Homo sapiens: one gene and its partners. The protein of the gene in region 6 purifies or fractionates together with the protein of the main gene of each other region. This does not show direct contact. Each region holds a gene or a part of one and is shown on either strand. Other genes may lie near its edges.

The links.
Region 1: the proteins of PPM1H (region 6) and SIPA1L1 purify together in Homo sapiens (affinity purification with mass spectrometry, with the first as the bait; one large-scale study listed by BioGRID). This does not show direct contact.
Region 2: the proteins of PPM1H (region 6) and CAMSAP2 purify together in Homo sapiens (affinity purification with mass spectrometry, with the first as the bait; one large-scale study listed by BioGRID). This does not show direct contact.
Region 3: the proteins of PPM1H (region 6) and CGN purify together in Homo sapiens (affinity purification with mass spectrometry, with the first as the bait; one large-scale study listed by BioGRID). This does not show direct contact.
Region 4: the proteins of PPM1H (region 6) and RALGPS2 purify together in Homo sapiens (affinity purification with mass spectrometry, with the first as the bait; one large-scale study listed by BioGRID). This does not show direct contact.
Region 5: the proteins of PPM1H (region 6) and KIF1C purify together in Homo sapiens (affinity purification with mass spectrometry, with the first as the bait; one large-scale study listed by BioGRID). This does not show direct contact.
Region 7: the proteins of PPM1H (region 6) and MAST3 purify together in Homo sapiens (affinity purification with mass spectrometry, with the first as the bait; one large-scale study listed by BioGRID). This does not show direct contact.

What each region holds. Positions count from the first base shown.
Region 1 is NC_000014.9:71,666,476-71,669,975, forward strand, and holds part of SIPA1L1 (signal-induced proliferation-associated 1-like protein 1), read left to right. Parts: intron 1-3,500.
Region 2 is NC_000001.11:200,741,893-200,745,392, forward strand, and holds part of CAMSAP2 (calmodulin-regulated spectrin-associated protein 2), read left to right. Parts: intron 1-3,500. UniProt on the Homo sapiens protein: Key microtubule-organizing protein that specifically binds the minus-end of non-centrosomal microtubules and regulates their dynamics and organization.
Region 3 is NC_000001.11:151,524,887-151,528,386, forward strand, and holds part of CGN (cingulin), read left to right. Parts: intron 1-755; coding exon 756-904; intron 905-2,088; coding exon 2,089-2,221; intron 2,222-2,944; exon of another isoform or gene 2,945-3,052; intron 3,053-3,500. UniProt on the Homo sapiens protein: Probably plays a role in the formation and regulation of the tight junction (TJ) paracellular permeability barrier.
Region 4 is NC_000001.11:178,885,744-178,889,243, forward strand, and holds part of RALGPS2 (ras-specific guanine nucleotide-releasing factor RalGPS2), read left to right. Parts: intron 1-225; coding exon 226-377; intron 378-3,500. UniProt on the Homo sapiens protein: Guanine nucleotide exchange factor for the small GTPase RALA. May be involved in cytoskeletal organization. May also be involved in the stimulation of transcription in a Ras-independent fashion.
Region 5 is NC_000017.11:5,004,450-5,007,949, forward strand, and holds part of KIF1C (kinesin-like protein KIF1C), read left to right. Parts: intron 1-117; coding exon 118-196; intron 197-405; coding exon 406-551; intron 552-2,465; coding exon 2,466-2,635; intron 2,636-2,813; coding exon 2,814-2,893; intron 2,894-3,017; coding exon 3,018-3,093; intron 3,094-3,500. UniProt on the Homo sapiens protein: Motor required for the retrograde transport of Golgi vesicles to the endoplasmic reticulum. Has a microtubule plus end-directed motility.
Region 6 is NC_000012.12:62,925,151-62,928,650, reverse strand, and holds part of PPM1H (protein phosphatase 1H), read left to right. Parts: intron 1-3,500. UniProt on the Homo sapiens protein: Dephosphorylates CDKN1B at 'Thr-187', thus removing a signal for proteasomal degradation.
Region 7 is NC_000019.10:18,142,778-18,146,277, forward strand, and holds part of MAST3 (microtubule-associated serine/threonine-protein kinase 3), read left to right. Parts: intron 1-883; exon of another isoform or gene 884-985; coding exon 986-1,230; intron 1,231-1,688; coding exon 1,689-1,916; intron 1,917-2,225; coding exon 2,226-2,452; intron 2,453-2,965; coding exon 2,966-3,088; intron 3,089-3,500.

The DNA of each region.
Region 1 (3,500 bases), on a different chromosome or scaffold from region 6:
GTAAATTGGAACATTGACACACTATTTGATGAAATAAAAGAGTTGTTATTCATTTTAAAACTAAAATAGTAATAAGTAGTCATAACAAGGACCCTGATTGTTCAAAACAAATATTAAACTGTGGTCAGTAGGTATGTTTAGGAAGGTAGAAATATGTGTTACTCCTCTCAGAGAGGTTTCCATACCCGGTAATTAAAATGTAATAACTGTTGAAAGGAATCTGTATGATATAGTACAAAAAGCACTTGGAATTAGACCAAATTGTTAAACAGTGCAGTGGGAAGTTGCTTGACATCCACTTAAAATCCTATTAAGTAAAATGTCTAGCATAGGCAGGGAGGAAGCGTGATGCATGTCCATTAAATGTCTGTGTTCATCCTCTTTCCTCTCTGTAAAAAAAAAAAAAAAAAAAAAAGAATTTGCAAGCTTCAGCTGAGAAGAAGAAAAATCCAAGTAGGTCAAGTGATAGAAATTTCTTTCAGAAGGTCTATTTCAAGCCTCAATTAATCAGCATCCCTATTGTCCACTGCAGCTGACCTTTCTAAGACAAGAATCTGATTATGTCATTTATTGTGCTTAAAAGCATTTAGAGGAAAGTTCAGACTTGCAAGCATAGCTTACTGCATGGGGGCTTCAGGTTTGGCCTCCTGTCTCTCAGTCTCATCTACCAGTCTGCACCCCATGCCTACCTCACTCCTTTGGAGCTACTCACCACTCCCCAGAACAGCATGCTCTGCCCCTCCGCTCTGCACATGCTGCTCCTCTCACACATTCCCCTTTCCCTCCATCTGATGAATTCCTGCTTTTCTTTTTTCTGAGAAGGCTCCCTGGACCTCCCAGGACTAAAGTGCCTTTCCTAAGTGCTACCAGTAGCACCCTGTACTTCGCAAGTAGGAGACTCAAATCACTGGCTGTGGCTCCCACCAGACTTTGAGTTTCTGGAGGGCTGAGCCCGGGACATCTTCAGCCTTGATCCTCAGCAAAGGCAAAGTGCCTAGCACATAGTAGGTACTCAGTGACTGGTGGATCAATACTATTAGAAATCGAGAGAATGATTGGCACGTGTTTGATCTTTCCTGTCCTTTGCCCAGATCTGCTTTCTTGGAAGCTGCCCTGGCCAGTAATCTGATTCAGGCTCCAAGAAGAGGAAACTTCCTTCTCCCATTTGATGTTTTCTGTATCACCTTCCTTTTAAATTTTGGGCTGGGGATTGTTGATTATTGCTGTTTTTCCATTGTGCTTCCAAAGTTCAAATGTCTTATATTTCTCAATTTTTATCCACTAAACTGTTCAGAAGTCTTTGAAACAGGCCGGGCGTGTTGGCTCATGCCTGTAATCCCAGCAATTTGGAAGGCTGAGGCAGGCGGATCATGAAGTCAGGAGATCGAGACCATCCTGGCTAACACAGTGAAACCCTGTCTCTACTAAAAATACAAAAAATTAGCCAGGCGAGATGGCGGGCCCCTGTAGTTCCAGCTTCTGGGGAGGCTGAGGCAGGAGAATTGCTTGAACCCAGGAGGCAGAGGTTGCAGTGAGCCGAGATCGCGCCACTGCACTCCAGCCTGGGCAACAGAGTGAGACTCCGTCTCAAAAAAAAAAAAAGTCTTTGGAACATTTTCATGTGTCAGCTTGAAGTTGGCTTTGGGTATCAACACTTGTTATTTCATTCAAGCTCTTTGATGCCAACCAATGTTACATGGCCCATATCGAGTAGAAATAGCCTCATCATCTCTTAGGCCATGTGACCCATGTGAATGGTCCCTTTTAGCAGGCACCTCAGGAGTAGGAGGTTTGAAAGCACTTCCTCAGAGGGAGTAAGTGTGGGCTTGTCGTGGAGCACTCTCTTGGCTGTCCAGAAGCTTACATTCCAATCCTGGCTCTCTCTAACAAATCTGGGTAAATCCTTTTACTTCTCTGTATCTGTTCCTGGAGAAGTGAAGAATTTGTACCAGCTGCTCAACCGGAGGTTCATGAAGATGTCAAACCACAGAATACAAACAAGACACCTTCCTGGTCGCTCAGTGTACCCAAAGATTTTGGAGTGAGAAGATATTTTTATATGAAAATGAACACAAATATTTTTCAGTAGAATGTAAAATCGAGGTGAATTTTCAAATGAAACCCAAAGATTTTACTGAAAGAATTTGAGGAACATTGAGTTCTGTTAAGTTCCCTTCCTGTGATAACTTTCCATCACTGTTTTAGCCTCTAGCTCTGTCTGTCTGTCATCTAGATAACCCTGCTGAGTAGAACATTCCAGTCCTCAACAATGCTGGGTAAATAAAGCATGGCTATGATTTTAAAGCATGTATTATTTCCAAGAAGACACAGAATTGCCAACTAGGCTAATATACATACAGCCAAGCAGAGGCCCTTTGGAATCTGCTTTTAAAAATACCAAGAACCGTTTATAATTAATATATCTTAAGTAACTACATGCAGCAAACTGAGATTCTAGAAAGGCTTTTTTTCTAAATATTCTGTTTAGCTTAAACCAGGCCTTATTATCAAGAGTTCAGAATTTGTGGCATCTAAATTAATGAGCTTTTAACCTTGTAGAAACCTTGCCAGTTTGATTTATCCAAAACAAAATCATTTATTTGAAAAGAGCATTCCAGGGTATCATCTTCCTCATCTTCTGTAAGGATTCTATTTCTGACTATGCGAAGCTGATTTCAGTGCCTGTATCATTTACCTCCCTACCACAGTGAATCATTGAAAATTATATGGTAAGGATTCAGTTCTTTTCCTCACAGTTCATTATAGCTGTTTCTAATTATTGGTAGGTTTTCAGTGTATGTTTGTCTAAAGTTCTATCAATTAATAAATGGATCTGCAGAAAGCCAGTTAGTTTAAGGGGCAAGTAGATGGAGGGTGCTTAAAATCACACCCCCTGCTAAACATTTTGCTCTCCTTATTTAAAATAAAATCACAGATATTTTCTGAGAAGGAATAACAATTTGAGTGAAATAGCAGATGAGAAGTTGCCAATTTTAAAGTGAAAGATATTAAATATTTCTGGATTCTTACAGGATTCCACTTAGAAAAATCTAGCAAACCTGGATTTCAGCATCTTTTGCTTGACTTTAAGAGAAAAATAACACGATCAAATTAAAATTATACAGCTGTCAGCGTTCAAGTCAGGCAGTTCACAATAGACAAGAAAAATTGCCTTCCTAATACATATTGGTATAATTAAGCCATATGGAAGTCTCTGAATTCTCTCCTCCAGTTAGAAAATGGAGTGTTGGTTGCCACTGTTCTTTGTCATGAAGTGAACTAGGTAGTCTTTTAAAAATACACTTGTAAAACCAACAGATAGGCCATCCCATGGCATCTTCTGAGCATGTAGCTTTTCCATTCCACCAGAAATATAATTTGCCTCCTGAGGTTGCTGATTTTTATTTTTCTTATTTTCACAAGAAATAACTATTTCTTGAAAAACAAAGCTGAATATCTTAAAGCAAACCCTTCCTAAAGAAAAAAAAGTGAAACAGAGC
Region 2 (3,500 bases), on a different chromosome or scaffold from region 6:
TAGGAGGAAATCAGTGCATAGAGAGGTTAACTTTCCTACTATCACAGTGTTAGTAAGTGGCAGAAGTGAGTTTTGATTTGAGGTCTGACTCAAAAGGGTAAAGGTATTGGTGGAGGTGGAACACTGCTGTTAGATACCCAGCACTCTGAATACATTACTTCATTTATTCCTGCAGCAACCCTGTAGATACTGTTCTCATTTTGCAGATAAGGTAACTGGCTCACAGATTAATTTGCACAAGATTAAACATCTGGCAAGTGATGTGTTCTGCATGTCTGACTCTGAAGCCTTTGCTTATTACTCTATACCGTTCTGCAGAGTAACCGTTTTATCTGCAGGTGTGAAAAATGTGCACATAGTACATATTGAAGTCTAATTTTTTCTTTAAAAATTGTACAAATCTTAATTCATTTTCAGATAGATGATATTGTTGGCTATTACATTTGCCTTGGCAGCAGTTGGAATGGATGAAAAGACCATATTCAAATGGGATGAAAAACAAGTTTAGAAGACCTTGAGTGACTTAGTAACAATATATTAATACATTATTAAGAATGTTATGTTTGTACATTTTGTTTATTCTTTATCAACAGTCTTTCAAAACAAATTTATATGGAGTGAATAGAAAAAAATTAGGAATTTTTTTGATGTAAATATTCTTTATTTGCTGCAGATACACTTATGCAGGAAAGGTTAATAGATAGCATATTTCAAAGGTATTACCTAATTATATTTAGTTGTTCAAAAAATCAGCCCAGCTTTCAATATGATTTACTAAAATCACTCCTTTAACAATGACTTACAGGGTCTTCAGGCACTGATTTGGTGTTTTCTATTAGAAACTTTCTAACTTTTGATGTACTGAAAAAGTAGTCAATTTTATAACCATATGTTGTAAAAGTCATTTAAAATGATAGCTAGAAATGTGAGCATAGAATGAAGTAATTGAACTTAAAAAAAAAACACTGATGTTGTAATACCTAGAAAGCAAATATGGAATATTTACTTAATTTGAAGTCTTAGGAGCCTTGAATCATTTTCTTCTCTTTACAGTAGTATTACAAAAGTATTACAAATAGCCCAAATTTTAATAGTTTATTTTGTGGAAGATGCAGATACAGGTTTGATTAAATGAAGAATACATTTTTATAGATGAATTTGAAACACTAAATCGATAATCCAAATTCCAAAGGAGGAAGTAGTTCAACTATCTGTGCCTTTTCTATATTTGAAGAGCTTAACCCATTTAAGCAAAGATTTTACAGAATTTTCTTTAAATGTTCTGTTCTCTTAAATCCTTTGGGGGAAATGGTAGATGCAAAACCTCTTGTGACACTCTTACTAAACTCTTGAATTTGGAATTCAAGGCCCACTTCCTAGTGTCAGTTTATCACTTCAATCTTCTCAACTATTATTCTCCTTTTTATCCCATTTAGTTTAGTGATATAAAATATTTCCTATCATAAATATACCTTGTTACATTTCTTTGTCTGTCTTAACAAATCTTGCTGTCAAAGTCCTGTATAAGGTCTGACTCTTGTGCATATATGAAGATAGTTGAGAGCAGTGGGTAGCATTGTGGTTAAGAGAGACCCGTAGCAGAGGGGCCAGTTTGGGACATTATTGCAAGAGTCTGGGCAAAAGATAAGGTCCTGTGTCTTTGACTTTGTAGTCAACAGAAAATTTACCAATAAGAAAAAAAAAAAAGAAGTTCATGAGGTCTTGAAGTGGTAGGGGGCGGGTATGATAATAAAGCTGCTAATATAGGCTGGGCATGGTGGCTCATGCCTGTAATCCCAGCACTTTGGGAGACCAAGGCGGGTGGATCACCTGAGGTCAGAAGTTCAAGACCAGCGTGACCAACATGGTGAAACCCCGTCTCTACTAAAAATAGAAAAATTAGCTGGGCATGGTGGCGAGTGCCTGTAATCCCAACTACTCAGGAGGCTGAGGCAGGATAATCGCTTGAACCCAGGAAGTGGAGGTTGCAGTGAGCCGAGATGGTGCCATTGCATTCCAGCCTGGGCAACAGAGCAAGACTCTGTCTCAATAAATAAATAAATAAATAAATAAATAAATAAATAAATAAAGCTGCTAATACTTATTGAGCTCCTACACTGTGTGTCAAGCACTTTACACATACTGTATCATTTAAATCCTCATGACAGCCTTTTGAGGTGGAAAGGTTACTTATTCCAATTTTACTGATGAGGAAAGTGTCCGGGGACTTAGGAACTCTTCCAGAGTTACCCAACTAATGGAGCTGGGATCTGAACCCAGGGAATTTGACTTCAGCCTGTACTTGTAACTACTGTTCTCTATGGGTAGAAGTCAAAAAATGGAAAGGAGGCAAATGATAGAAAAAATGTTGCAGAGATTTAATCTCTAGTATTTCTAAGTGGGTACATGGGAAATGGTTTGAATGAAAAGGGAATGTGTAAGAGGGTGAGGTCGCCTGAGGTTTTAAGAAGGATGAGGTTACCTGAGATTTTGAGATTTGGTGACTGACAGGCTGAATTGAGATGCCATTGACAGAGAAGAAAGTATAGTAACACTGAAGCCCTGGAAGGAGAAAATTTCAAGGAGAATGGTCTGATTCAACAGTGTCAAATCCTATGTGTTTAAGCTATGCCTTTCTTTTAAGAGTTTATGCTTTGCTAGGGGAGGTATGATAAATGTATAACCACAGTAGAGTTCAGAAATAAGCTAAGAGTCATATAATTGGAAATATGACATTCAGAGGGAGACTGGTGGCGTTAGGATGCGGTGGGGTGGCAGGGGAGAGGCCATTTCCAGCCTCATCAGTGGTCTGTGAAGGAAGACCTCTCTAGTGGAGGTGGTATTTAAGCTATAGGCTGAATTGAAAGTAGGCATGGTAGATGGAGGAAATGGTTTGTGTGTAGACATGGAGTTGTGAAACCCAGGTAGTGCTAATGAAACAACATAGACCAGATTGATGGGATGAGGTTTATGTAATGAAGCAGTGAGAGAGCCAGCTTGAAAGACAAACGGACAGAATTATGTGAAGGGTGAGGTGAAGGAATTTGGTATTTATTTAGTAGTTAAATTATCCTAAGCACATTGGATTAAAAAAAAAAGAAAAAATACTATTAAGTATATTAAACATGTAATTTGTGCTCATTATTCTTGTAAGCGTTTTATATGCATTATTTATTTTAATTCTGAGAATGAGCCTATTAAGTAGATATTATTTTATTCTAAGACTCTAAAACAGGGTTTCTCAACTGCAGAACTATTGGCCAGATAATTCTTTGTTGTTGGGGGCTGTCCTGTGCATTCTAGGATTTTAGCGGCATCTGTGGCCTCTACCCACCTGATGCCAGTAGTGTTCCCTACCACTACCCCTACTCCTACCCCAGTTGTGACAACCCAAAATGTCCCCAGACATCTCCAGATGTCTCCTGGGGAACAAAAGGAGCCCAGGTTGAGAATCACTGCTATAAATATTATAAGACACACTATTGTGATCTAAAAAGGTT
Region 3 (3,500 bases), on a different chromosome or scaffold from region 6:
GCATGTGACAAGAGCAGGGTCTGAGAGAGGAGGGCACTGCTGGAGAACAAGGCTGCCTTGGGATCTTGGACTTTTGGACTTTTCATGGTTGCAACTGGGAACTCCCCCTCTCCTCCTAAAGGACACAGTGAGATCTGCTGAAAACCTTGGGCAGGAAAACTATAGGGGCAGAGGGAGGGAGTACAGGCCAGAAGTACCTTGAGGTTGTGTGACAAAAGTCCCAAGGGGGACTGGGTGCGGTAGCTCATGCATGTAATCCCAGCACTTTGGGAGGCTGAGGCGGGTGGACTGCTTGAGCTCAGGAAGTTAGAGACCAGCCTGGGTAACATGGAGAAACCCCATCTCTGCCAAAAATACAAAAACTTAGCTGGGTGTAGTGATGCGTACTTGTAGTCCTAGCTACTTGGGAGGCTAAGGCAGGAGAATCGCTTGAACCAAGGAAGCGGAGGTTGCAGTGAGCCGAGATCATGCCATTGCACTTCACCCTGGGCAACACAGCGAGACTCTGTCCCCCTAAAAATAAAAAGTCCCAAGGGGAAATAACTGGGGAGGTTTCCTGTAGATGATAGAGGGGTGGACTGTGACTTGAGGAGAGAATCTCTGCTAGCATTGTACCAGGTACCACAAGAGTGTCAGGGGGTGCACCTGGCATGGTGCCCTCTGGGTCTAAGCCTTTCCTTGTACACACTCACACTTTGATTTGAAGTGACCTCTTCCCTCTGAGCCTTCTGGTGTCCAACTCTCCCCTTCTCTAGGACCATGCAGTGCTGGAGGCCGAGAGGCAGAAGATGTCAGCCCTTGTGCGAGGGCTGCAGAGGGAGCTGGAGGAGACTTCAGAGGAGACAGGGCATTGGCAGAGTATGTTCCAGAAGAACAAGGAGGATCTTAGAGCCACCAAGCAGGAGTAAGGACATTGGCCCTCTCAGAAATACCCATGATTCATATGCCACTTCCTTTCTTTTTTTTAATTTTTAATTTTAATTTTAATTTTAATTTATTTTTTGGGACAGAGTTTCGCTCTTGTTTCCCAGGCTGGAGTGTCATGGCACGATCTTGGCTCACTGCAACCTCTGCCTCCTGAGTTGAACAGATTCTCCTGCCTCAGCCTCCCAAGTAGCTGGGATTACAGGCGCATGCCACTACGCCCAGCTAATTTTTGTATTTTTAGTAGAGATGAGGTTTTACCATGTTGGCCAGGCCAGTCTCGAACTCCTGACCTCAGGTGATCTGTCCACCTTGCCTCCCAAAGCACTGGGATTACGGGTGTGAGCCGCTGCGCCTGGCCCCCTTTCTCCTTTTTTTTTTTTTTTGAGATGGAGTCACACTCTGTTGCCCAGGCTAGAGTGCAGTGGTGCAGTCTTGGCTCACTGCAGCCTCCGCCTCCTGGGTTCAAGCGATTCTCCTGCCTCAGCCTCCCGAGTAGCTGGGATTATAGGCGCCTGCCACTAGGCCTGGGTTTTTTGTATTTTTAGTAGAGACGGGGTTTCACCATATTGGCCAGGCTGGTCTTGAACTCCTGACTTCGTGATCCTCCCACCTCGGCCCCCCAAAACGCTGGGATTACAGGCGTGAGCCACTGCACCCAGTCCCTTTCTTCTTTTTTTTGAGACAGGGTCTTGCTCTGTTGCCCAGGCTGGAGTGCAGTGGCACAGTCTGGGCTCACTGCAACCTCCACCTCCTGGGCTCAAGCCATCCTCCCACCTCAGCCTCCCGAATAGGTGGGACTATAGGCATGCACCACCACACTTGGCTAATTTTTGTATTTTTTGTAGAGACGGGGTTTCATTATGTTGCCCAGGCTGGTCTTGAACTCCTGGGCTCAAGTGATCCATCTGCCTTGGCCTCCCAAATTGCTGGGATTACAGGCATGAGCCACCATGCCTGGCCCACTTCCTTTCTATCTATGGTATGCTCTTACTCTCCCATTTCTCAAACTGCTCTTTTCCACGTTCACCTTCCTTCCTCTTGAGAGTTGGTGCCCAGCGTGTTGGCCTCCAGAGAGGTGGCTTTTATTGTCATGCTAACCTCCCCCAGGCATGTGGCCTTACTCTGTTCCCTTTCCCCTTTATTTCACCTTGCCTGGCTCAGACTCCTGCAGCTGCGAATGGAGAAGGAGGAGATGGAAGAGGAGCTTGGAGAGAAGATAGAGGTCTTGCAGAGGGAATTAGAGCAGGCCCGAGCTAGTGCTGGAGATACTCGCCAGGTTGAGGTGCTCAAGAAGGTATTTGGGAATTGGGGGGCAGAATGGTAGGTAGGGGTGATGAACACCTGCCTTACCTCTCCATGAGGGCCTTCTTGCTAGTGGGGCTATCTCCTGTGTGCTTGGTTTCCAGGCCTCATCCTGCCTGCTCAGCTTGATCTCTTTCCAGCACAGCAGCACCAGTCTCCTCATTGAGCATAGAGGTTTCTAATGGAAAGTGCTCTCAGAACCCAGGTTGGGGTATAGCCAGAGGCTGCTGGCCGACTCCCAAGAGACGTCATGGGTAGCAGCATTTAGGTGGATTTGTGAAACTCCAGGATGATTTTTGCAGGCTCAGAAATCTAATTTGGTCAGCATGGCAAAAGCTGCTTTGTCTTTCAGAGGGGTCTCTAACTACATTTATGAAAAAATGTTTACCATTAGAATTTCAGTTTATTAATTTACATTGAGAAATATCATCACATGGACTGGAATACTTGTGTTGGCATGGCCTGGTTACTAATGTAACAAAACTAATTAGCAAAAGAAAAATAGCAGAGTATATGGTATTACATTGAAGATTCACTACATATTATATAACCCTTTAGCCTAATTATGGTACTTTCTGAATTTCAGAAGTAGCTAATAGCTAATAATTAGAACCAGAACTCCTATTTTAATTTTCTTTTTAAAAGAAATCAGAGCTGTGCCAGCATTTATTGTGTCACACATTTTGGTTTTATACACACACACACACACACACACACACACACGAAAGACAAGTGGCAGCTGCAGGGATTGTGCTGACCTGTTCTGTCAAAGTCTCTCCAGGTTGCTCTTGCATGCAGTTGGAGATCCCATGGCCACACTATATATATATATATATTTTTTTTTTTTTTTTTTTTTTTGAGACGGAGTCTCACTCTGTCACCCAGGGTGGAATGCAGTGGCGTGATCTCGGCTCACTGCAAGCTCCGCCTCCTGGGTTCACGCCGTTCTCCTGCCTCAGCCTCCCGAGTTGCTGGGACTACAGGCGCCCACCACCACGCCCGGCTAATTTTTTTTGTATTTTTACAAAAAAAATACACGTACTCAGTGTTTCACCGTGAAACATGGTTTCACCGTGTTAACCAGGTTGGTCTTGATCTCCTGACCTTGTGATCCGCCCTCCTTGGCCTCCCAAAGTGCCGGGATTACAGGCGTGAGCCACCGCACCCAGCCTCACACTGTATTTTTTTTAAACAACCAGCCTTACTAGCCATACCTTCATGTACTCTCCCTTCATGGTATTTTTTTTTTTATGGAGTTATATTTTACATGC
Region 4 (3,500 bases), on a different chromosome or scaffold from region 6:
ACACGAGGCTTAAAATGAAATTATTTTAAAGTATGCTCTAATTATATAGATAGATAGGGCCAGGTTTCCTAAAACATTTTCCCTAAACTGTTCATTTGAGGCTTTTATGGTAAGATCTGAGTATGACAGTTAGGTAAATCTTTTATGTCCTAAATCTTTATATAAAGAGCAGTTTTTAAATTAGTAACAATAATAAAAGATATGAACTTTTTTTTCTGTTTCTAGTTTCATTCATAAAATGAACACAGCAGAATTTAAGAGTGCAACGTTTCCAAATGCAGGACCAAGACATCTGTTAGATGATAGCGTCATGGAGCCCCATGCGCCATCTCGAGGCCAAGCTGAAAGTTCTACTCTTTCTAGTGGAATATCAATAGGTGAGAAATACTTCTCTGAGAGGGTTGCAATTTAACTTTAAATAAAAATGTTAATAAAACTTGGCTGGAAAAAAACCCCACCCACACACAGAGAAAATTTGGTTAAAAAAACAAAGTAGCAGTTAAATATGGGATGAAGTTAATAATTTGTGATGGTTTTAAAAGTGCTTGCTGTTTTTAACTCCAGAAGGGGAAGCATTTGAAGAAGGTGGAAAAAGAACATATGGGCTGGTTGAATTAGTTAACTGCATGTGATTTGGATATGGGGAGGAGGAAGAGTGTGGAGTCAAGAATGACTTCCGGTTATTTGGGTTAAACAAGTATAATAGTTAGATGATGATGCTATTACCAAGGTAGAGAAGACAGAGTAATAATCTGTGGGCAGTGAAGCGTTTGTGAATTTGGGGAATCAGGTGTGTTTTGGACATGTTTAGTCCCTATGGAGATGTCAGGTAGGTTGTTGAATATGTGAATCTGGAGCTCGGGGATAAGGTCAGATCTGAAGATATACGAGAGGTAGCATATTTATAAGCCATGATTGGTTGAGGGTACCTAAAGAGAGAGTGTACATAAATAAAAAAACATTCTCACATTTAGAAGTCTGATTATTTTTTAAAAGAAGGATGAGTCATCAAAGGAAACTAAAAAGGAGAGATCAGTGAAGTAAGGGGAAAAAAACAAAAGCCCAGTAGATGAAGTATCTCAAGGAGGAGGAAAGTACTGAATGTGTGAATATCAAATGCAGAACAAGAGAGCTAAGATGAGAATGGGGAATTGACTGGGGGATTTGGCAAGATAAAAGTCATTGGTGACCTTGATAAGAGTTGCTTCATGGAAGTGTCAGGGCATGGCCTGGATTGGAGTAGATTTGAAAATGAGAGGTGAGGAAACAGAGATAGCTACTGTGAAGGAGAGCAGAAAATAGAGACCATATTAGAAAGGGATGTGAGATTAAGAGAGGGATTTGTTTGTTTTTACTTCCTAAACTTTTAATTTTTGAGTCTTCTAGATGAGCATTATTTCTTGTTACAATTAGAAATTATTCATATAGCCTGGGCAGTGTGGCTCACACCTGTAATCCCAGCACTTTGGGAGGCCCAGATGGGCAGATCTCTTGAGGTCAGGAGTTCAAAATGAGCCTGGCCAACATGGCAAAACCCCATCTCTACTAAAAATACAAAAAGTAGCAGGGCGTGGTGGTGCATGCCTGTAATCCCAGCTACTTAGGAGGCTGAGGCATAGGAATCATTTGAACCCAGGAAACAGAGGTTGCAGCGAGCCATGTTCGCAGCACTGCACTACCCTGCCTGGATCACAGAGCGAGATTCTGTCTCAAAAAAAGAAAGAAATTGTTCATATAATAGCTACTTTTATTTTTAAAAAGAAATAAAGGAGGAATATGTCTTCATCTATGATTAACTACCAGATTGTTCAAGGACTAAGCCTATTGTTACTAATATCTTAATATTGGTAAACAGCCAGTAGAAGGAGATGCAAAAGGAGATTGATTTTCTGGAACATACTGACTTTCTTAGCCCTTGAGAGTTAAAATTAAATTATTTCAGAGCTCTCCATTACCATTCAGTAGTTGTTTATTCTGATAGTCCCCTTTTTATATAAAAATACAAGTGATTAAATGATAAAATGTTTTAAAAAGAAGGCAAGTTTGTCACCTGAAATACCTCTTATCAATGTTCTAAGTTGCCTATATGCAAATACTAATCTCAGTATGAAGAATAATTTTGCAAAAGAAAGAACTTTTTTTCAGTCAAAAATTTTCTACACGTCCATGGAATTTGGCATGCCACTTAAAGCAAAAAGTTTTTAAAATTACAGCTCTCAAGTATATAATATTTTACTCTTTCTCATAAGTGTTATAATGAGAATTATTCTGTAGTTTATAGCTTTTACTTTTCATGGATGTCCTTTTGGCTACCAAAAGATTATTGTTTAGTTATTTTATTGAGTTACAGTTAGTGTCTCAGTGTGGAGACTTTTCTCTTTTAGAGCAGATTTTTGCATTTGTGTTTATTTTTTAATTATTCTAAGGCTAAGTAAGTAAACAGTAAAAGATCATTGCATCCTAGTTTGTAAACTAAGAACATTACACATAGGCATTTACCTTCGAGGATTTTTGTTTTAAAGCTTTAACAATATGAAAAAAAGAATAAGTCTATTACCATAAGATGATAGGTGTTAATATACACACACGAGTTTTTCCCTCAGCTTTAACTTTTACATGCAATATTAATCTACAGTGAAGGCTTTGAAAATACTGTGGGAAAATTAACCAGTGCTTAGAACAATGGCCTTAAACATTTTCTAATGTGGTATCTATCCTAGATAATCTTGAGTAGTCTCACCTAGCTAACTAAGAGAAGCATATTCACTCTGAGCTTCATGCTTACATTTTCTACAAATAAGTTATCCTAATTATGCTTAAATTTTCAGTCTTTACCACATAGTGCCACAAATCAAAGGATAATGTAGATAATGTACAAGACCCCACCACCACCACGGGTTACCTCTGGTTCTTCTGAACCATACAATACAGAAAATTATTTCAGTGATTGTTATCTCAGTTTATCCAAGGATGGTACATAACTAGTGCCATTGCAAACCCGTAGAAGGGTATTAATCCATCGTCTCTAAGAGAGACGAGTCTAATGGATACCTTACAGCATCCATTACAGGTGTCTGATGGATACCTTACAGCATTAGAATTTGAGTCTCTCAGAACCCTGCCCGTAAAAAAGAGTTTGAGTCTCTCTTCTTAGAACCCTGTCTGATAGACAATTTAACTTGACCTATTAATCATCCTAATTTTTTTGAGAGCCAGAATTACCTTTAAAGTAACATTTAAGTAAACTAAGCTGTTTTGGACTCTCTAAATTCATTCCCCATAGTTTTTTTGTTGGTTTTTTTTCCCCCTAGCTAATTGTAAACGTTCTGTTTGAAGACCATTTTATTTTAACTGATCTTTTGGCCAAAGAGAAAATTGTTGCATTTTTATAGCACCGGTTTTTGGTTTTTTAAATTTAGAGATTCCATCTTCTTTGTCTCTAGAGACAAATAAGTGGATTTCATTAGGCTTTTTATACTTAGGGTAGTAATGGACTTTAA
Region 5 (3,500 bases), on a different chromosome or scaffold from region 6:
CTCAGACCATGACCCTGTAAGACCTCTGCCTGGGCAGTGGGCCCCAGCCCTGTGACCCGGTCTGACTTTGCTTAGCCCCTCCCTCAGCTGAAGCTTTTCCATGCACTCCATTCACAGGGGGGAACTCACGCACAGCCATGATTGCAGCCCTGAGCCCTGCTGACATCAATTACGAGGAGACTCTCAGCACCCTCAGGTGAGGCTTTTGGCTCTAGCAGGGATGGGGCAGCATAGGAAGAGTGCCAGGAGTTCAGAGGCGAGTTGCTCAGGACCCTGCTCGTGAGACGGGGGAGATGCCGGAGCCTTGCCACAATATCTTGAGACCTGGGAGAGGGGGAAGGAGAAACAGCAGACCAAGGGTCCCCTGCCCCCAGGCCTCACCGACCCTGCTCCTCTGTCACCCAGGTATGCTGACCGCACCAAGCAAATCCGCTGCAATGCCATCATCAACGAGGACCCTAATGCCCGGCTGATTAGAGAGCTGCAGGAGGAAGTAGCCCGGCTGCGGGAACTGCTGATGGCTCAGGGACTGTCAGCCTCTGCTCTGGAAGGTCGAGGTTCCAGGGAGGGGCAGCTCAGGGATGCCCCTTGGCCCACCCCATCCCTCCTCACTTGCCTTTGCCCAGTCCTGGAGCCAGGGAGGGACCACACACTATGAAACCTTTCATGTGCTCAGTGACGTGGACACAGATGTGGAGAGGGAACGTATGTCTTCAGATGTTACAGAGCTGGGAGGGACTAATTCTCTAGGAGAGGATGAGGATCCAGAAGGACCTGTCAGGCTCCTGGAAGTAATGAAATGACTGTTACAGGAAAAAATGGCAATATATGCTTACAGGTCAAACAGTAAATTGTTAAGAGGCTAGGCTACTGGGTGACTTTCTTGACAGAAGTTCTTGCAAAACGTCAGAGTTGAAGTGGACCATAGCCTAACAGATCTCAGTGGAGTGCTTTCTGGTATGTCATGCTCAGCCTCACTGATGGAAATAGTGTCCAAATCAGAGGATGTGTAATCCATGTTGACGGTCAGGAATGGACCCTGCATTCAGTCTTGAGATCATCCCATTGAGGATAGTTAGGGTGCTGAAGGGCACAGTGTGGGGAGTATGAGTGTTCTTGGAAAGAGAAGGATAAGGTAGCTAGTGATGTTTGCCTTCCAACATTTGAGGGATTTTCTTGCAGAAGAGAAAGCAGTAAGGACTTTTTATCCCAGAGGGCAGAACTAGAAACACTAGCACACATGACGTGGGACCAGTTTCAGCTCAGCACAGCTAAGAATTCTTTTTTTTTTTTTTTGAGATGGAGTCTTGCTCTGTCGCTAGGCTGGAGTGCAGTGGCTCCATCTTGGCTCACTGCAACCTCCGCCTTCTGGGTTCAAGAGATTCTCCTGCCTCAGCCTCCCGAATAACTGGGATTACAGGCGCCCACCACCACACCTGGCTAATTTTTGTATTTTTAGTAGAGACGGGGGTTTTAGCCTGGCACAGTGGCTCACGCCTGTAATCCCAGCATTTGGGGAGGCCAAGGCAGGCAGGTCACCTGAGTTCAGGAGTTCGAGACCAGCCTGACCAACATGGTGAAACCCCGTCTCTACTAAAAATACAAAAATTAGCTAGGTGTGGTGGCACGCACCTGTAATCCCAGCTACTCGGGAGACTGAGGCAGGAGAATCACTTGAACCCAGGAGGTGGAGGTTGCGGTGAGCCAAGATGGAGCCATTGCACTCCAGCCTAGCGACAGAGCAAGACTCCGTCTCAGAAAAAAAAGTTCGACACAGAGGTTTCTAGACTGGCCAGGCTGGTCTTGAACTCCTGACCTAAGGTGATGCTCCCACCTTGGCCTCCCAAAGTGCTGGGATTATAGGTATGAGCCACTGTGTCCGGCCCAGCTAAGAATTTTCTCTTTTTGAGACAGTCACGCTCTGTCACCCAGGCTGGAGTGCAATGGCGTGGTCTCGGCTCACTGCAACCTCTACCTCCTGGGTTCAAGTGATTCTCCTGCCTCAGCCTCCCAAGTAGCTAGGATTACAGGTGCCTGCCACCACACCAGGCTAATTTTTGTATTTTAGTAGAGACGGGGTTTCACCATGTTGGCCAGGCTGGTCTCGAACTCCTGACCTCAGGTGATCCACCCGCCTGGGCCTCCCAAAGTGCTGGGATTACAGGTGTGAGTCACCACACCTAGCCCCACCTAAGAATTTTCTGATGGTGCAAATCATCTAATAGTGGAAAGGACTGGCCGCCTCCTTCAGTAATGAGCTCTCCACCCCTGGAGTTCAAGTAGAGAGACTGGGTGCCCATTTACCATGGCTGCAGTAGGAGGGCTCCTTGCCTGGTAGGAGGCTGACCAGCAGTCTTCTGTAGTCCTTACAGACTGGTCCTCTGTGAAGCTCTTGGTCTCCTGGATGTCTCTCATCAGCTCCTTCTTTCCTTAGCCTCATTCTTTTTCCTCTTTCTCCCTCCCAGGCCTGAAGACGGAAGAAGGGAGTGTCAGAGGCGCCCTGCCAGCTGTGTCATCTCCCCCAGCTCCAGTTTCACCCTCATCACCCACCACACATAATGGGGAGCTGGAGCCGTCATTCTCCCCCAACACGGAGTCCCAGATTGGGCCTGAGGAAGCCATGGAGAGGCTGCAGGTGGGAAGCTGGAGCTGGCAAGGGCTGGGGGTCTGGGCATTCCTGGGAGTTTACTTCTCCAAAGTCAAGCTTGAGAAAGAAGGAATTCTAGGAGTAGCATGGCCCCAGGGTAGGTTGTCCCTACCCTGGGTCTGCTTGTCCCAGACCATCCTGAAACCTACCCACCTTACGCCCCCAGGAGACAGAGAAGATTATAGCTGAGCTGAACGAGACATGGGAGGAGAAGCTACGCAAGACAGAAGCCCTGAGGATGGAGAGGTGTGAGGGCCGACAGTTGGGGTCCTGGGTGGAGTTGGAGGCCATGGGGGAGGTCAGGCCCCACAGGGAAGGAGGTCACGGGCAGTGAAGGTAAGACTGACATTTGCCTCTCCTCTGCCCACAGAGAAGCATTGCTGGCTGAGATGGGGGTGGCCGTCCGGGAGGATGGGGGAACTGTGGGCGTCTTCTCTCCAAAGAAGGTGAGTGAGGAATCGAGCGAGGAGGCCTAGAGAGCTCTCTGGATGCCTAGAAAAGAGGCAGCAGGTGCAGGGTAGTGAGTGCTGTCCCTGATCGCTCCCTTTGAGGTCCCCGGCTTGTCCCTCCATCATTTCTGTCCCCTCCCCTGCCACCTCCTCTCCGTCTTGTTTAGTCATCCCTGCCTTCTCCCTTCAGCCATTCAACAGTCAGCCTCAGGAGAGGGAGAGGACCTGGGAAATCGGAGGTTGGTTGCAATAGAGCATGCTTTTGTATCATTTGAGTTTTGTATTCTGTGCATGCTCAAAAAGATAACTAAAGAAATCTATTTTTCAGAAGGATAACTTGGGAAGACAAGACTAAAGGGAATAGAGGAGGCATGAGCACTACATTGTAAGACAGTGGTTGCCAG
Region 6 (3,500 bases):
GCTTAAGGAACAGGATTGGCGCCAACGTTGTGACTTAGTAGAGAAGAGAGGCCTGACTCAAGTTTGGTGGAGGAGAGAATCTTTGTCATCCTTGCAGATGGGGGAGAAGGGGGAGAGAGTAGGTGGGACTGCAGTTATTTAACTGTGATTTTCATTCTGACTTATCTGCATTACTTCTGTGACCCTCCATAATTGACTGTGTTTCCTACTGACCATGTAAGGAGAGCAGATGCCCTTAATTATGGTGCAAAAGATGCAGGATTGAACCTAATTATACAACATAATGTTATGGCAAAGAGTTGAGGAGCCTTTCCCAAGTTGTTTTTTTAGATAAGTGGTTTTCACTAGCTTTCCAGTTTGGTACTACAGTAGATACTTTGCAAATTATTAGCTTAAGAACGGTATAGCATTTGATTTGTTTGGCCCATCTCCCATATACCATATAGTGATAGGATTATCCCTATTTATACTTTATTAGAGGCATTAAAAATTGCTAAATGCAATAGTCATTTGTTGAGCTAGTCCTGTGTGTAGGTTCTCTATTAAGCACTTTATGTATAAGGATTTAATGAGATGAATGCAACGTAGGTAAGTTATTTGTTCAAAGTAACAAAGCTTTTTAAGTGGCAGATCTTGGATTCATATCCAGTTCTGTGGAACGCCTACCTTTGGTGGTTTTTCACTGTGTCTAATGAAATACTTAAAACATTTTTAACCATGAGATACTCATTATAGGAAATTCAGATAATATAGACTAGTAAAAGATATGAAGAACAGAGTGAAAAATGTTTGTTAATTCATTAGCCACTGTTAGTATTTTAGATTTGGTCTCTCAGATTTTTTATATAGGTATTTTTTTAAAAAAAATAAAAGCTGATCATATGTTTACATGTCTTATAACATGTCTCCTTCACTTAAGAATATAAAATGGTCCCCTCTTCAACGTATATTATTTTCTTTTTTCTTTTTCTTTTCTTTTTTTTTTTTTGAGACGGAGTTTCGCTCTTGTTGCCCAGGCTGGAGTGCAGTGGTACGATCTCGGCTTACTGCAACCTCTGCCTCCTGGGTTCAAGTGATTCTCCTGCCTCAGCCTCCTGAGAAGCTGGGATTACAGGCGCCCACCACCACACCCAGGTAATTTTTTTGTATTTTTAGTAGAGATGAGGTTTCCTCATGTTGGCCACACTGGTCTTAAACTCCTGACCTCAGGTGATCCACCTGCCTCAGCCTCCCAAAATGTAGGGATGACAGGCGTGAGCCACCGCACCCGGCCTCCAACATATATTCTTATATGTCGACTGCCTAATATTCCATTGAAGGGCTTCCCATTCATGAATCTCCCATTGAACATTTAGATTTACTTTTAGGCTTTTAGTGAATATCTTCATATGTTTTCTTCAGCTCATTCAGTTGTTTCCTTATGATTAATTTCTAGACATGGAAAGCTTGGTTAGAAGCTATGCACATTCACAACTGTGATACATATCAGATTGGTTGTATCAATTCACACTGCAGCCAGCAGTGTCTACCACTTTAGTATTAAGCCTTTAATATTTGTCAGTGATCTGATAGATGAAATATACTTCATTGTAATCTGTTTGATTATTGAAGAAAATGAATAAACAGATGTATATACTTATATGTTATAGATATTTATTAGCCATTTAAATATCTTTTTGTTGTTGTTGTTGTTTTTTGAGACAGAGTCTTGCTCTGTCCTGCAGGCTGGAGTGCAATGGCACAATCTTGGCTCACTGCAACCTCCGCCTCCCGGGTGCAAGCAGTTCTCCTGCCTCTGCCTCCTGAGTAGCTGGGATTACAGGCATGCGCCACCATGCCTGGCTAATTTTGTATTTTTAGTACAGATGGGGTTTCTCCATGTTGGTCAGGCTGGTCTCAAGCTCCCAACCTCAGGTGATCCGCCCACCTCGGCCTCCCAAAGTGCTGGGATTACAGGAGTGAGCCACCGCACCTGACCCATTTAGAGATCTTTTTACGGTTTTCCTGTTTATATTCATTTTTCTGTTGAGATAATGTTTCATATTTATAAGAGCTCTTTATATTTTAAGGCTGTTCACCCTTGGCCTATTATGTTGTGATATTTTTTCTAACATGTTCATTTTTTAACTTCATTTTTTTTCTTTGCAATGCAAAATTTAATATTTGGGTGGTCATACCTAATCTCCTCTATGGCTTCTATTTCATATCAGGCTTAGAACATGTAAAGTACTAGAATAACCATCCTACTCCTTTTAGCTACTTACTGCCCTTGGTTGCAACTCATAGAAATGCCTTTGAGCTAACTTTGGGGTGGTGGGGGGAAGGAAATGGTGATTAGATACCAACTGTCTTATAGAACCCAAGTATAGGAATAACTTGGATTTTACAAGGGACTGGAACCCTGAACTAGAAAGCTATTCAGCAACAAAGTGGCCATTCTTTCAGTCTTTCACCAGGGCACGGGTGACTTCTCCATGCCACCAACAAGCAACCAGACCACATCAACTGTGGCTTCAATTCCAATTTTGAATTTTTGGGAGAGAGACTCCAATAGGTTCAGTTTGTCTCAGATGTCCACCTTCTCCACAGGTGATTATGGCTGCCAGGACCCACCCCTGAAAATGGGCAGTTCTTTAAAAAGGAGGTGGTGGTAGTTAGGGCTGGGCAGATAGTTTCGAAGATTCTACTACTATAGATAACTCAGTCAACAAATATTTGAGTACCTTATTTGTTTCAGGCACATATTAGAAGACAGATGAAATGACCAAATAGACAAATGTGTCAACAGGCAAATAGTGTTTGTGTCTGAATGTGCCTGCTGCCCTGCCTTGCAGACCTTGGGGAGCTGTCTAGGCTAGGAATTCAAAACTGCCCCAAAAATGCCATAGAAGGGATAAAGACTCAGGCCAGCTTTGGAACTAAATATGGCTATATGGCTTGAAGGTTTGTACCAATAAATGAGTATTACATGTTAATATAAGATGATGTAGCTCTTCAGCCACAGGGGTATAAACCTGGCTAGCATGACACACCAGAGCTCTGCTCATTGTTGTTTGTTCATTTGTTTGTTTTTTTGAGATAGTCTCGCTCTGTCACCCAGGTTGAAGTGCAGTGGCACAATCTTGGCTCACTACAACACCTGCCTCCCCAGTTCCAGCAATTCTCATGCCTCAGCCTCCCGAGTAGCTATGACTACAGGCACATGCCACCACGCCTGGCTAATTTTTGTATTTTTAGTAGGGACGAGTTTCCTCATGTTGCCCAGGCTGGTCTTGAACTCCTGGCCTCAAGTAATGCACCCACCTTGGCCTCCCAAAATGCTGGGATTGCAGGTGTGAGTCACTGTACCCCACCTGCTCCCTGTTATTTTATTTCTTTTGCTCATCTCATTTGTCTAGGCAGGTAGGGTAATGACAGACATATTTGGTGAATGGATGTTTATTTTATAAAACAAAAGTTCAACTTCTATAGTTTCCCCTTTTTTAATTAGTCTAAGATAT
Region 7 (3,500 bases), on a different chromosome or scaffold from region 6:
CTACAGGCGTGCACCACGGCACCCGGCTAATTTTTTAAGCAATTTTTTGTAGGCCAGGTGCAGTGACTTACACCTGTAATCCCAACACTTTGGGAAGCCGAGGCAGGTGGATTACCTGAGGTCAGGAGTTCAAGACCAGCCTGGTCAACATGGCAAAACCCCATCTCTACTAAAACTCCAAAAATTTAGCCGGGCATAGTGGTGCACGCCTGTAATCCCAGCTACTTGGGAGGCTTAGGCACGAGAATTGCTTGACCCTGGGAGGCGGAGGTTACAGTGAGCCAAGATCGTGCCACTGCACTCCGGCCGGGGTGACAGAGCGAGACTCTGTCTCAAAAAAAAAAAACAAAACAAAAAACAAAAAATTGCAGAGATGGGGTCTCCTTATGTTGCCCGCCCTGGTCTCGAACTCCTGGCCTCAAACAATCCTCCTGTCTCAGCCTCCCAAAGTGCTGGAATTATAGGTGTCAGCCACTGCACCCAGCCTGGAAGCTGGGTTTTAAAAGTTGAATAGGAAGCCGGGTGCAGTGGCTCACGCCTGTAATCCCAGCACTTTGGGACCCCAAGGCAGGCAGGTCACTTGAGCTCAGGAATTCAAGACCAGTCTGGCCAACATGGTGTAACCCCGTCTCTACTAAAAATACAAAAATTAGCCCAGTGTGGCGGCAGGCACCCATAATCCCAGCTACTTGGGAGGCTGAGGCAGGAGACTCACTTGAGCCCTGGAGGCAGTGGTTGTAGTGAGCTGAGATTGCACCACTGCACTTCAGCCTGGGTGACAGAGTGAGACCCTGTCTTTAAAAAAAAAGGTGAATAAGCGGTCTCCAGGTGGACAGAGAGGACAGTGCAGACAGAAGGAACTCGTCCTGTCTATGCAAATTACCCTTGACTGCAGACTGAGAGTTAAGATGTGGCCATGAAGGTGGCTGAGTATCCTGGGGTGCAGGTGCCTGGCAGGGGTGATGCAGGCTCTTCCTCCCTGCAGGCTGAGGTCCTGGACATCCTCTGGATCCTCCTGTCAGTCATCTTCGTCCCAGCCCGAGCGGGGTCCCAGCCCATCTCTCCTGAATACCATCAGCCTGGACACAATGCCCAAGTTTGCCTTCTCATCAGAGGATGAGGGGGTAGGCCCAGGCCCTGCAGGCCCCAAGAGGCCCGTCTTCATTCTAGGGGAGCCTGACCCCCCACCAGCGGCCACCCCAGTGATGCCCAAGCCCTCGAGCCTTTCTGGTAAGTGGGGCCCTGAGTAAGAGGGATGATGTCATGGAAGTTTCCCAGAGGAGGGGCTATTTGAGATGGGTTTTCAAGGATGAGTAGGAGTTCTCCAGAGCCAACAAAGGCTTTAAGAGAGGAGAAGCCAGGGTCCCAGAGAGACCCCCAGCCCCCAAGGAACCCCAGTCTAGGGTAAATGCCCCCAGCTTCATAGAGTCAGGATGGGACCCCTAGCTCCCAAGATGGGGGAACTAAGGGTCTAAATGGGTGTGGAGGAAGGCTTCCTGGAGGAGGGGACTTGAAGACTTTTGCATAGAGAATAATTTGGGAAGGGAGTGCAGGAAGAGGGAACTGCATGAGCAAAGGCCAGGAGGCTGGACTGTGTAAATAGTGACCAGGGAGGAAGGGCCTTAAGGTCCCTTTAGGACCACATGGTGAGTTTGAGGGGCACCCAGCTGACCCTGCTGACCCTCTAGCCGACACAGCTGCTCTCAGCCACGCCCGCCTACGGAGCAATAGCATCGGCGCCCGACACTCCACACCAAGGCCTCTGGATGCCGGCCGGGGCCGCCGCCTTGGGGGCCCAAGAGACCCAGCCCCTGAGAAGTCCAGAGCCTCCTCCAGCGGTGGCAGTGGTGGCGGCAGTGGGGGCCGCGTGCCCAAGTCAGCCTCTGTCTCTGCCCTGTCCCTCATCATCACGGCAGGTAATGCCCAAGGCCCCTCTCACCTTTGTCTGTCTGCACCCATTTTCACCAACAGGGTGGGGGCCCTTCCTGAGTTGGGGAGGCTGGGGATGAGCCCCAGAAGAGGGGAGGAGGAGTAGGACACATGGAGAGCTGGGGAGATGGTGTTCCCAGTAGAGGGCACTGCACGTGCAAAGGCCTGGTGGGGTGACCATGCTTGGGACATTGAAGCAACAGCAAAGTGGCCAGGGTGGTCGTTGTGGTGGGAAAGAGGGGGCCCCAGGGGAGACCTGTGAGGGAGTGAGTGACCCCCTCCCTAACCCCCTGCAGATGATGGCAGCGGCGGCCCCCTCATGAGCCCCCTTTCCCCGCGCTCTCTGTCCTCGAACCCGTCGTCCCGTGACTCTTCGCCGAGCCGAGACCCGTCCCCCGTGTGTGGCAGCCTGCGGCCCCCCATCGTTATCCACAGCTCTGGCAAGAAGTACGGCTTCAGCCTGCGGGCGATCCGCGTCTACATGGGTGATAGCGACGTCTACACTGTGCACCACGTCGTCTGGGTGAGTGCCGAGTGGGAATGGCAGGGACCCGGGTTCTAGTTTGACTCTGCCCGGTCATGTCCCTTCTCAGAGCTGCATTTTGGAGCCTGGCAGGGTTAGGTAGATAGAGCTGGTGCCACCGAGTTCATCTCGGTCCCTGTCATTTGGCAGGGAGGAGGTCAGATGAGAGAGACAAGGATGGATGGATGGAAGCTCACAGATCCCAAGTGGCATTAACCTCCCAGCTCCATATGGGGACGCACTGGGCATGTTATCCTCCCTCTCCCAGCCCAAGGGCGTCGAGGCATGCCCTCCCTATTGGTTGCTCCCTGAACAGACACAGAAGGCTTTCTGGAGAAGGGGGCGTAGGAGCTGGGGCTTTGATGGGTGAGTAGGAGTTCCCCCAGGATCAGGGAAACTGAGACAGCACAAGAGGCAGCAGCTTGCTGGGGTCCCACAGCAGACCCAGCCTGGGCTGGGGTCCCCAGATGTGGGGCCCAGGCCATTGACCCCACCGTTCTCGTCTGCCCCCAGAGTGTGGAGGACGGAAGCCCCGCCCAGGAGGCGGGCCTGCGGGCTGGGGACCTCATCACCCACATCAACGGGGAGTCAGTGCTGGGGCTGGTGCACATGGACGTCGTGGAGCTGCTGCTGAAGGTGCGGCACCCCCACTGCCCACCCTCAGGGCTCCCCAGCACCCCTTGGCCGCAGCTCCCGGTTCCCCGTGGTTCTCCGCGTCCAGACACACAACCCCACATTCAATGTCAACTCCAGGCCTGGCACATCCACTTCCTTCGGCCCAGAATACATGTCCTTCTTCAGCCCCCAACATCACCCCTTAGAGCTGCTCCTCCAGGAAGCCCTCCCTTCTCCCTGGGCACCCTCACATCTGTTCCTCCCTCTGGCCTGAGGCCTGGAGGTAGGAGATGGGCTCAAGACAGGAGGAAGGGCCGGGCGCGGTGGCACACGCCTGTAATCCCAGCACTTTGGGAGGCCGAGGCAGGATGATCACCTGAGCTCAGGACTTTGAGACCAGCCTGGGCAACAGAGCGAGACCCCCATCTCTGCA